Regions from separate parts of the Homo sapiens genome. Here region 1 is linked to region 2. Evidence: fine-mapped expression QTL. Tissue or cell type: whole blood. Region 2 holds a variant in brackets; the other region holds the start of a gene. All regions are shown on one strand. Distances are from middle to middle.

Region 1 (4,396 bases), 50 kb after region 2:
ATACCTCAATCCTATTTCAAGGTGCTTACAGAATTTCTGCAAAATGGGAGGTGGTAAAGAGTTGCCTTGCGTGCTTTGAGACAAGTTCTTTGCACCTGTTCTCTTATGTCTCTAGTGATCTGTGAGATCCTTGGCTACCAAACACCTACCTTAGAAATACATTTCCACAAGGCCTGTCCCTTTCTTTTCCCAGCTTTGGCATTATTTCTCTCACTTTCAGAGCCCTGCAACTCAATCACACCACCTAGACCATTACTACTCTTCGGCTAACTTAATTCTGGGATTGTTCAGTGGAGGTTATCACATAACGACTATTGATGAAAAGAATTAAACTTTGTAAAATATTTTAAGAGATTTATTCTGAGCCAAATATGAGTGACCGTGGCCCGTGACATAGCCCTTAGGAGGTCCTGAGAACATGTGCCCAAGGTGGTCGGGGTACAGCTGAGTTTTATATATCTTAAGAAGGCATGAGACATCAATCAAATACATTTAAGAAATACATTGGTTTGGTTCAGAAAAGTGGGACCACTTAAAGCGGGGGCTTCAAGGCTATAGGTAAATTTAAACGTTTTTTGGTTGACAATTGGTTGAGTTTATCTGAAGACCTGGGATCAACGGAAAGGAATGTTCAGGTTAAGGTAAAGGATTGTGGAGACCAGGTTTTATTGTGCAGAGGAATCTTTTAGATAGCAGCCTTTAGAGACAGCAGGTTGTAAAATGTTCCTTACCAGACCTAAAACGGTGCCTGGCTCTTAGTTGGTTATCTCCTGGGTGTAGGAAGGAAGGAAGGAAAACAAAGGGGAAAGGGGATATAGAATGTGGATTTTTCCCACAAGAGACTTTGCAGGGCAATTTTAAGGCATGGCAAGGAAATATAATTTGGGGTAAAACATTTTGATTTTCTTCCTTGTTACGCCAGAGTCAGACTGGAAAGTAAGTCATGACCTACATGGTCAAAACCCATCTGATGAGAATTTATGGTTTTTGTAGGCCATGACTCCCCAGACCCCTTAGATAGGAATTTGGGCAAGATAAAAAAGCAGAGCTTAGTCTTCACGATCAACCCCACATGCCAGGCCTTCTGGTAGGCACCTAACATTCAGTCAGTAACTACAGTAACTCTGTCCGTTGTGTCTGGAGCAAGCTAAAAAGGCTGGATTGCTGGGGAAATGGAAAGAAGCCAGCACTAGGGGCCTGGGTTCAAGTCTGGAGGGAAGGAGGGGTTGTTTAGCCCTAACTTTGCACTAAAGTAACCTTGGCTGTGTAATTTAGCCATCTAAGAAAACGAGGGGATAGACACCCCATATGTTCTCTGAGCTCCCTTGAAGATGTCTGTATGAAAGATTCTCTCCTTTTCATGTCCCTTCCGTGCCACTATTCCGAGCATCAGTCTGACCCTAGGAGTGGTGACGTCCTACTCAGCTGGGGGCTGCCCCTCAGTTCCCATAGAGGCAAGTCTGGGTCCTGACTTGGCCAATGGCCCTGGAGGCCGCTGAGCTCCTCAGGCCCATAGCGCAGAAAGTGGGCGATAGGTCATTCCAGGACAAGGGGGCGGAGGCTCCAAGAAACTACGACTCCCAGGAGGCCACTGGGTTCCCTCCGGCAGCCTGGGCCTGGTGCATGTTGGGAGCAGTAAGCGGCCTCCCGCCGCGCTTCATTGTTAAGACCGCTAGGCCAGGTAGCCCGCGCGCATGCCAAGTCACGTCCCAACGAGTTGGGCGGCTTTCCTTCCTGCAGGCCTCTTCTCTTTCCGGTCTTGCTGAGGCGCTCCTTTCCCCGCCCCACCTCCGCCCTCTTTTCAGGGAATTTCGAAGGGGCGTGGCGTCTGGCAAGCGCGTCCCCAGGGGTGTGTATACGCGCGTTCACGGGAGGTTAAAGAGGGAGGAGCCTAACCCTTGGGTGTGTAAGGCAGAGAGAAGACCGCGAGGAACGGAAAGCGCATGCGTCCTAGTGGTGCTGCAGCGCCCGGGGAGTCGCGGAGGGGAGGGGTGAAAATGGGCTTGCGGGACTGACGCACGCGCATTGGGATACCAGATCCCCGCCTCCTGCTCCAGGTTTCCCCTCCTCCTTCACCACCCTCCCGGAAGTGGAGCCGCCCTCGCGCCCACCAGCGGCTACCCCCTGCGGCAGGCCCCGCCCACACAGGCTCCGCCCCCCGGCGCTCCGCCCCCTCCTCTTGTAGTGGCGCCGGCTTGCATCCCAGGTCGTGGCGGTTTTGGTGCCTGAAGCAGGGAGCGCGGAGTCGTTCCCGAGAGAGGCGGCCAGGCTATGCTCGCCGGTTTCCGGCGTTCCGCTCCGGCCAGCCAGAGTCTCTGTCTCAACCTGTGTCCGTGCTCCAGCAGTCTCCTCAGCCCGGCCCCGCGGCGCGGTTGGCGGCGGCGCCCCAGGCGCGCCCCCTCCTCCGATGGCGGCGGAGATCCAGCCCAAGCCTCTGACCCGCAAGCCGATCCTGCTGCAGCGGATGGAGGGGTCCCAGGAGGTGGTGAATATGGCCGTGATCGTGCCCAAAGAGGAGGGCGTCATCAGCGTCTCCGAGGACAGGTATGGACTACTGCCATTCGGCCGCGAGGAGGGGCGGGACGGGCCGACGGCCCTCGAGCCCGCGTCAGGGGCTGTGCCTTCACGTCGGCGCGAGTGTAGACTTGCTCCCCCAAGTTTTATTGTAATGCGCATCCTGGTGGTGCCGGTGTTCAGCTGCGCGCCGCCTCCGCTGTGTGGCTCCGGGAAGCGGAGCCGGGACGGCGGCGAGCGCTCCGGCTTCACCCCGGGCTGGGTAGTGCCTGCGGGAGCCGGGTGGCCCTCGGGCTAACGGTGCGCTGGAGGGACTTTGGTCCATCCCTGAGGACAGGAGGGAAAGAGGGGAGGAGCCGCCCGGCTTTGCAGGTGTGTGCTTGGGGAACGATGCCCTGAGCCGCCTCTGCAAGATAACCAAGGGGTTTGGGGTACTCTCGTACAGCTCCCAGGGTTTCAAACGGAGAAAGCAAATGCCACTCCTTCTTCCCAGACATTCCTACTGAATCCAGATAACCCAGACATCTTAGGCTGAATTCAGTGAATATTCTAAGTTGTACCAAGAGTAAGTTTAGGCTTCTGCGTGGTGCCTTCTTTCCTTTCCCCTCCTTATCTCTTGGAGCTCGAGGAGAAGCGCGTAGAACTTGTAACGGATCACTGCTGCAAATAGCTCTTGAGTTCCTTCCCTTTGCCTGTTTCCTTTATTTTTGCTTAATTTTGCTTAATATGCAGAAGTGGAACTAGTTGTTCTGCCTTCAAATACTCTCTCTGTTTTGCGTTTTCGCTTTAACTGAATTTCCTTGAATATGCAGGAATAAAGCTGATGAAGCTAATTTCTAGAGTAATGTTGCTTGAAGATAGTATTATGATAATTTATCTGAAATTGTTTCTTTGGTAAAATCTATATAAGCATTCTTACAAAAGAACACTGTAGAGGTACATAACACGGGGATTTTACAGTAAGTAGGTTTTCTTAATATAAGTTCAAATCATGCAGAGGTAAAGTATCCTTTCTTGGTGACTCAAAATTGAGAGGCTGAGCAACAAAGTGCTCATTGCTGTCTTTATAGTCATTTCCGCACTTAGCATAGTGTGTGGCCTCAACAATTGAGCTCGATAGGTTTGTTCATGTCTTAGGTTCTTCAGTATAACTAGGATGAGTATATTAATGACATGTTCTTGTCTACATCATGCTCAATACAAATGGCGCCTGATTAATTTCCTGTGCAGATCCAATGGAAAACATTGTAAACATACACCAGTGGCAAGCATTCTGCAATGAACAGAAGAAATTCATGGCTGAAATGGAGTACATGGATGTAGGACCCTTTTGAAATTCACAGAGAAGCCTTATGAGAAAGTTTGATTTTTTCCATAAAGGCAAAATTTTATTAAAAAGACTGCTTCTGGACCTAGAAATTCTTTGGCACAGTATTGTTTTTATGGGATATATTCCATAAAATATATTGAAGGAATATATTGGTAGATGTCACTTTCCCAGTCTGTAACTACTGGAGATGGAACTGATCAATTTCTAACTGCTGTGGAAAATTCATAAGCAAATTCATGGAATCAAGAAAAGGAGAAGGGTAGTTAAACCTAAGCTGCTTTAATATTTTATTTATTTTTTTAAGACTAGTTAAGTACGGTAGTGAGAAGGGGAAGAGAGTAGAACAAGGAGTTCAATCTGTAACTGACTGTGAACAATTGAGATAATAAAACTACCTTCAGACCATCCTAAGCTCCTTTAATATTAAGGTGTTATTATAGTATTGAAACTTCTGATTCCCATTTCACCACATTTACCTTGAAGGAAACAGCTTTACTGGGGTATATTTTCAAGTGTTTGGAGACGCTGAAGTAGTGTATATTAATGAAACTG
Region 2 (4,396 bases):
TTTTAAAACAAGACATACTCCCCTGCCTCTAGAAGAAGTCAACTGTAAGAATTGTAAGGGCAAAAAGAGTAGAAAGTCCTGCCTTCAATATCTGGTGCCTCTTGGGATGCACTGGAAAAATTCTAATTGACACTGAATAGGGAGAGAGCAGCGTCTACTCCCAAACTTGTGATGCTTTCTCTAGCACACACAGAATTCTTTTGGATAGATAGGATGTGGTAGATACACTCTTAAAGTGGGTTCTTGAAAACCCATTTCTCAGAATTTGCCAGGGTTCAATGCTACATAGACAGTGGTTAAGAACTTTCCAGACCAGAGGACCATGAGATGTGTGAATCATCACTTTCCACTACCAAAGATCACACAAAATGCTGGGCATTAACCCACAAGTTCAGAGAATGCCGTTGTTGCAACTGGAGAATCCAGCTGACTTGAGTTAGGGTACAGAGACTGAGAACTGGGTGTGGGAGCATGGCCTTTAGCAGTGGGATATCAGAAAAAGGGAAACACAGTCTCTGGCTCAGGCAGTAGTGAACTTGGGGAGGAAGGTGCAGTCTGAGGTATCAAATTGCAAGGGCACAAGAATTAGATTACAATGGAAGTGAAGATCAGAAAGATTCCTGAGACTGTGGTATGCAGAGAGGGGAACTTACTGTGGAGTCCCGTGGTCTGGTCCAAGGACAATTTGAGAGCTGTTTAAGATGTTACTGATTGAAATTCCTCTCCCCTCACCCACTAAAAAACACTGCTGGAAGGTTTTCAGTTCTTTCAAAACTGTTCTGAGAGATCTCACTAGAAAGATATGGAGAATATCAGAAACCTTTAAATTTGTTTGGGGGAAAAATAATGCAAAGAAAATTGCATATTTCTATGAAATACAGTTCTAATTCTAGAGAGTAACTTCATTGTCAACGAATGTTTTGTGGTTTTTATAAACTTCCAAGTAAATAAACTCTTCTGGTATTATTTATTATTGTTGTTATTTTAGTTTTTGAGACAGAGTCTCGCTCTGTCACCCAGTCTGGAGTGCAGTGGTGCCATCTTGGCTCACTGCAACCTCTGCCTCCCAGGTTCAAGCAATCCTCCCACATCAGCCTCCCAAGTAGCTGGGATCACAGATGCATGCTGCCATGCCCAGCTAATTTTTGTATCTTTTGTAGAGACAGGGTTTCACCATGTTGCCTGGGCTGGTCTCAAACTCCTGGGCTCAAGCAATCCACCTCCCTCAGCCTCCCAAAGTGCTGGGATTATAGATATGAGCCACTGTGCCAAGCCTGTATTATTATTATATATACCTGGCTAAGGTGAGCAATATCTATTTGAGTCCAGGTCTACATTTCTGGAGTAGGCAAACCCAAGCAAACAGTTCTGTTGCAGAATTCTTTTCTAAAAGTTTTTAAAGGGCTTTTTTTTTTGTTTTGTTGGCCTAAATATGCACTTATTCATCTACATAATAACATAATAACTTGTAGACAAAATAATCACCTGGTGACTTTGTCTACAGGAAAACAAATCATGAATAGTTCTGTTTTCATGTTGACACACTCCTGATAAAGGAAAGATATTGGGGACTAGAGTGAAGGCAGCTCAGTTGATACACTAATGTCTCATTCAAAGAAAACGGAAGCTGGAAAATGTGGACTGTGACTTCATTACATGAATGAAGTATGGTAGTTTAGGGGGAAGAGGTGAGGATATTTGCCCTGTTTCTCATTGCTATAGCACACACTGGTTCTGGAATCCTAGCAAAGCTCCCTGTAGGTCACCACGCCCTCTCCGACCCACAGGAAGTCACCACCTTTTCTTTGCATCATAAATTATTTAGCAAACTATTCACAAAAGCAAAAAATTATAAACTTCCATGAAAATTATTTTGAGCTCTGAATGATTATATCCAAATCAATATTATTTTATTGTACATGATATTCTTAAAAGGTAAAGCTCAGCTGAAGCTTCAACTAGTTGATTATTTGGCATTTTGAGAAGTCAGGGAATACC[A/G]GAGACAGCCTCTTGCTTTACACCACTAACCCTGAGACAGCCGCAGCCACTTCCTGGGTGAGGTTTCCTGAGGCCACTCCTTTAGGCCCATGACTGAAACATGATGTCCTACACCCTGGAAAGGGGGCATGGCCGCACTTTGGCACATCTGCCCAATTTGAATGCTCCCGAAATGTTAACAGCTGCAGCTGGGCCTGCCAAGGGGCTGCTTTAGTGACACAAAAAGCCATTCATTATAGTTCTCAATGCAATTTGTGATGTTTTAGTTCTTCTGTTGTTACTGTTATTCTTGAAGGTTGCTTCTTGTTTGGAGCACTGGTTAAAACAGGGATGTCTTTTCCTTAGACCAAAATTATTTTGTGCACACAGACAGTAGTATATAAGTACATTAAATATTCCTTTGGCACAAATGATCTTCCAGATGGAATGAAAACACCTGAGCTATTCAATACAAACCCACATTTTTCATGTGACATACCATGTCTTATATTTTAGTGTTGTATCCTTCAGACTTCAAGTCTTCATCCTGCTTTAAATGTGAAGATTTTTCTTTAATCCAATTTCTTAATGAAACAAGAAACTGTTAGGGAGATAAAAAGTTTAGCATTTTTAAATGTATGTTCCAGGGATATTGATTTATTCACTTTGTACCCCTTGGTGATACAAATGAAAAAAAGAATATCAAGCTAACTTAGAAGTTAGCAGGGGTTTTCCCTCGTAGGATTCTGTGCAATTAATTAGGACAACAGGGAAGCCTTTCATGAAAGTTGTATCTTTGGGCTTACCCTCATGTTCTTTCATCTTAAAATAATATGTTGGTTTCTAATCCCCCTCACCCCACACACACAATGGTGTGGGTTAAAAGCCAATCAAAAAGCAAAGAGGCTTTCTAATATTCAGATTTTAATGTAACATGATGAATCATATTTCTAATTTCAAATTATAGCTTTAATTAAGAGGGGAAATGTCTTTATAAAAGTAAGAGGGGAAATGTCTTTATAAAAATTACCATCTTCAGGCCAGGCACGGTGGCCCATGCCTGTAATCCCAGCACTTTGGGAGGCCAACCGCGGGTGGATCACCAGAGGTCAGGAGTTCAAGACCAGCCTGGCCAACATGGCGAAACCCTGTCTCTACTAAAAATACAAAAAAAGTAGCTGGGCGTGGTGGCTCACGCCTGTAGTCCTGGCTACTCGGGAGGCTGAGGCACGAGAAGGAGGCACGAGAATCACTTGAACCTGGGCTCAGAGGTTGCAGTGAGCTGAGACCATGCCACTGCACTTCAGCCTGGGCAACAGAGTGAGACTCCATCTCAAAAAAAAAAAAAGGTTGCTGTCTTCAAACCACAGTTAATGTTTCGATTAATTTATTTTATTTTTATCTGTCAAAAATATTATTGAGTTCCTAATAGCATCTTAGCAATATGATATATTTTATACTTCTTTTGAGCCCAGTATAAAATGGGGATCTGTTGATGAGGGTCTTGTTAACTAGTGGGAGAAATCGTGTATGAAGACATCATTACCAATCTCTTCTTTGGCATTATAGCAGAAGCTGCGGAGCCTTCTGAAGGACTGTGGTGCTCACTTCTCCAGCTGCTGGGAGTGATGGTGACTGAGCACCTTCAGTGAAGTCCTTCTCCCAGAATTGCCCTCAGTGAAAGACTGCCACCTTGCCCAAGGTCATGCTGCCCCCATGAAAGCAGCCTGTATCAATGACTGGTCGGTTAGGGACAGGGCATAGAGGCCCCAGGCCCTTGCCTTAAGGCAGGGTAACTCAGAGGGGTCGTTCCAGCTCTGAGCACATGGGGAATCACTTGATCAGCTCAACTCCTTCCTCTGCCCAACCCTAAATCCTTCACTCCCCTATAGGTATTTACTCCAAGGGCACTCCCCATTGTGTTTCTTGCAAGCAAATCTCTGTCAGAGTCTGGTTTCTGGGAGAGACCCAGCCACAGTGGCCTTAAATACTTATATAATAGAATTTGGAGGCCCTGGTTTTGTCTTGCTCTGGCCACCATGTTAAGTTACCTCTCTCAGCTTCATTTAGAACTAAAGGTTGGACTAGATCCCCAAAGTAACTTACATCTCTGAAAGTCTATGATGTTTCACAACAAGCACTCGATCTTGATTGCTCTTCTAAAAATCATAACTATTATCAATGGAAAAGAATGTGTAATCAAAATTCAATGACTTGATGGCCGGGCATGGCAGCTCATGCCTGTAATCTCAACGCTTTGGGAGACCAAGGTGGGAGGATCACTTGAGGCCAGGAGTTCAAGACCAGCCTGGGCAACATGGTGAAACCCCCATCTATTAAAAAAAAAAAAAAAAGCCAAAAAATTCAGTAACTTGGATTCGATTACTAGTGTGTCTGGCAATACAAAATAGATTTTCCC

The links. PIP is the estimated chance that this variant, and not a neighbour inherited with it, causes the effect.
Region 1: it holds the start of WDFY2, and the variant in region 2 is fine-mapped to the expression of WDFY2 in whole blood (TOPMed, PIP above 0.99). The same link has a PIP of 0.9 or more in blood mononuclear cells.

The regions. Positions count from the first base shown.
Region 1 is chr13:51,582,281-51,586,676 of GRCh38, forward strand. It overlaps WDFY2 (WD repeat and FYVE domain containing 2), which reads left to right and starts at 2,182. Exons shown (of 12, transcript NM_052950.4): 1 at 2,182-2,544. The coding sequence starts at 2,408. It also overlaps the pseudogene RNY1P6. RefSeq lists enhancers at 1,434-1,954, 1,613-1,892 and a silencer at 2,033-2,402.
Region 2 is chr13:51,532,518-51,536,913 of GRCh38, forward strand. No RefSeq gene overlaps it. Among named protein-coding and RNA genes, the nearest start is that of MIR4703, 18 kb to the right of the region's middle. The variant A/G (reference allele first, on the strand shown) is at 1,999.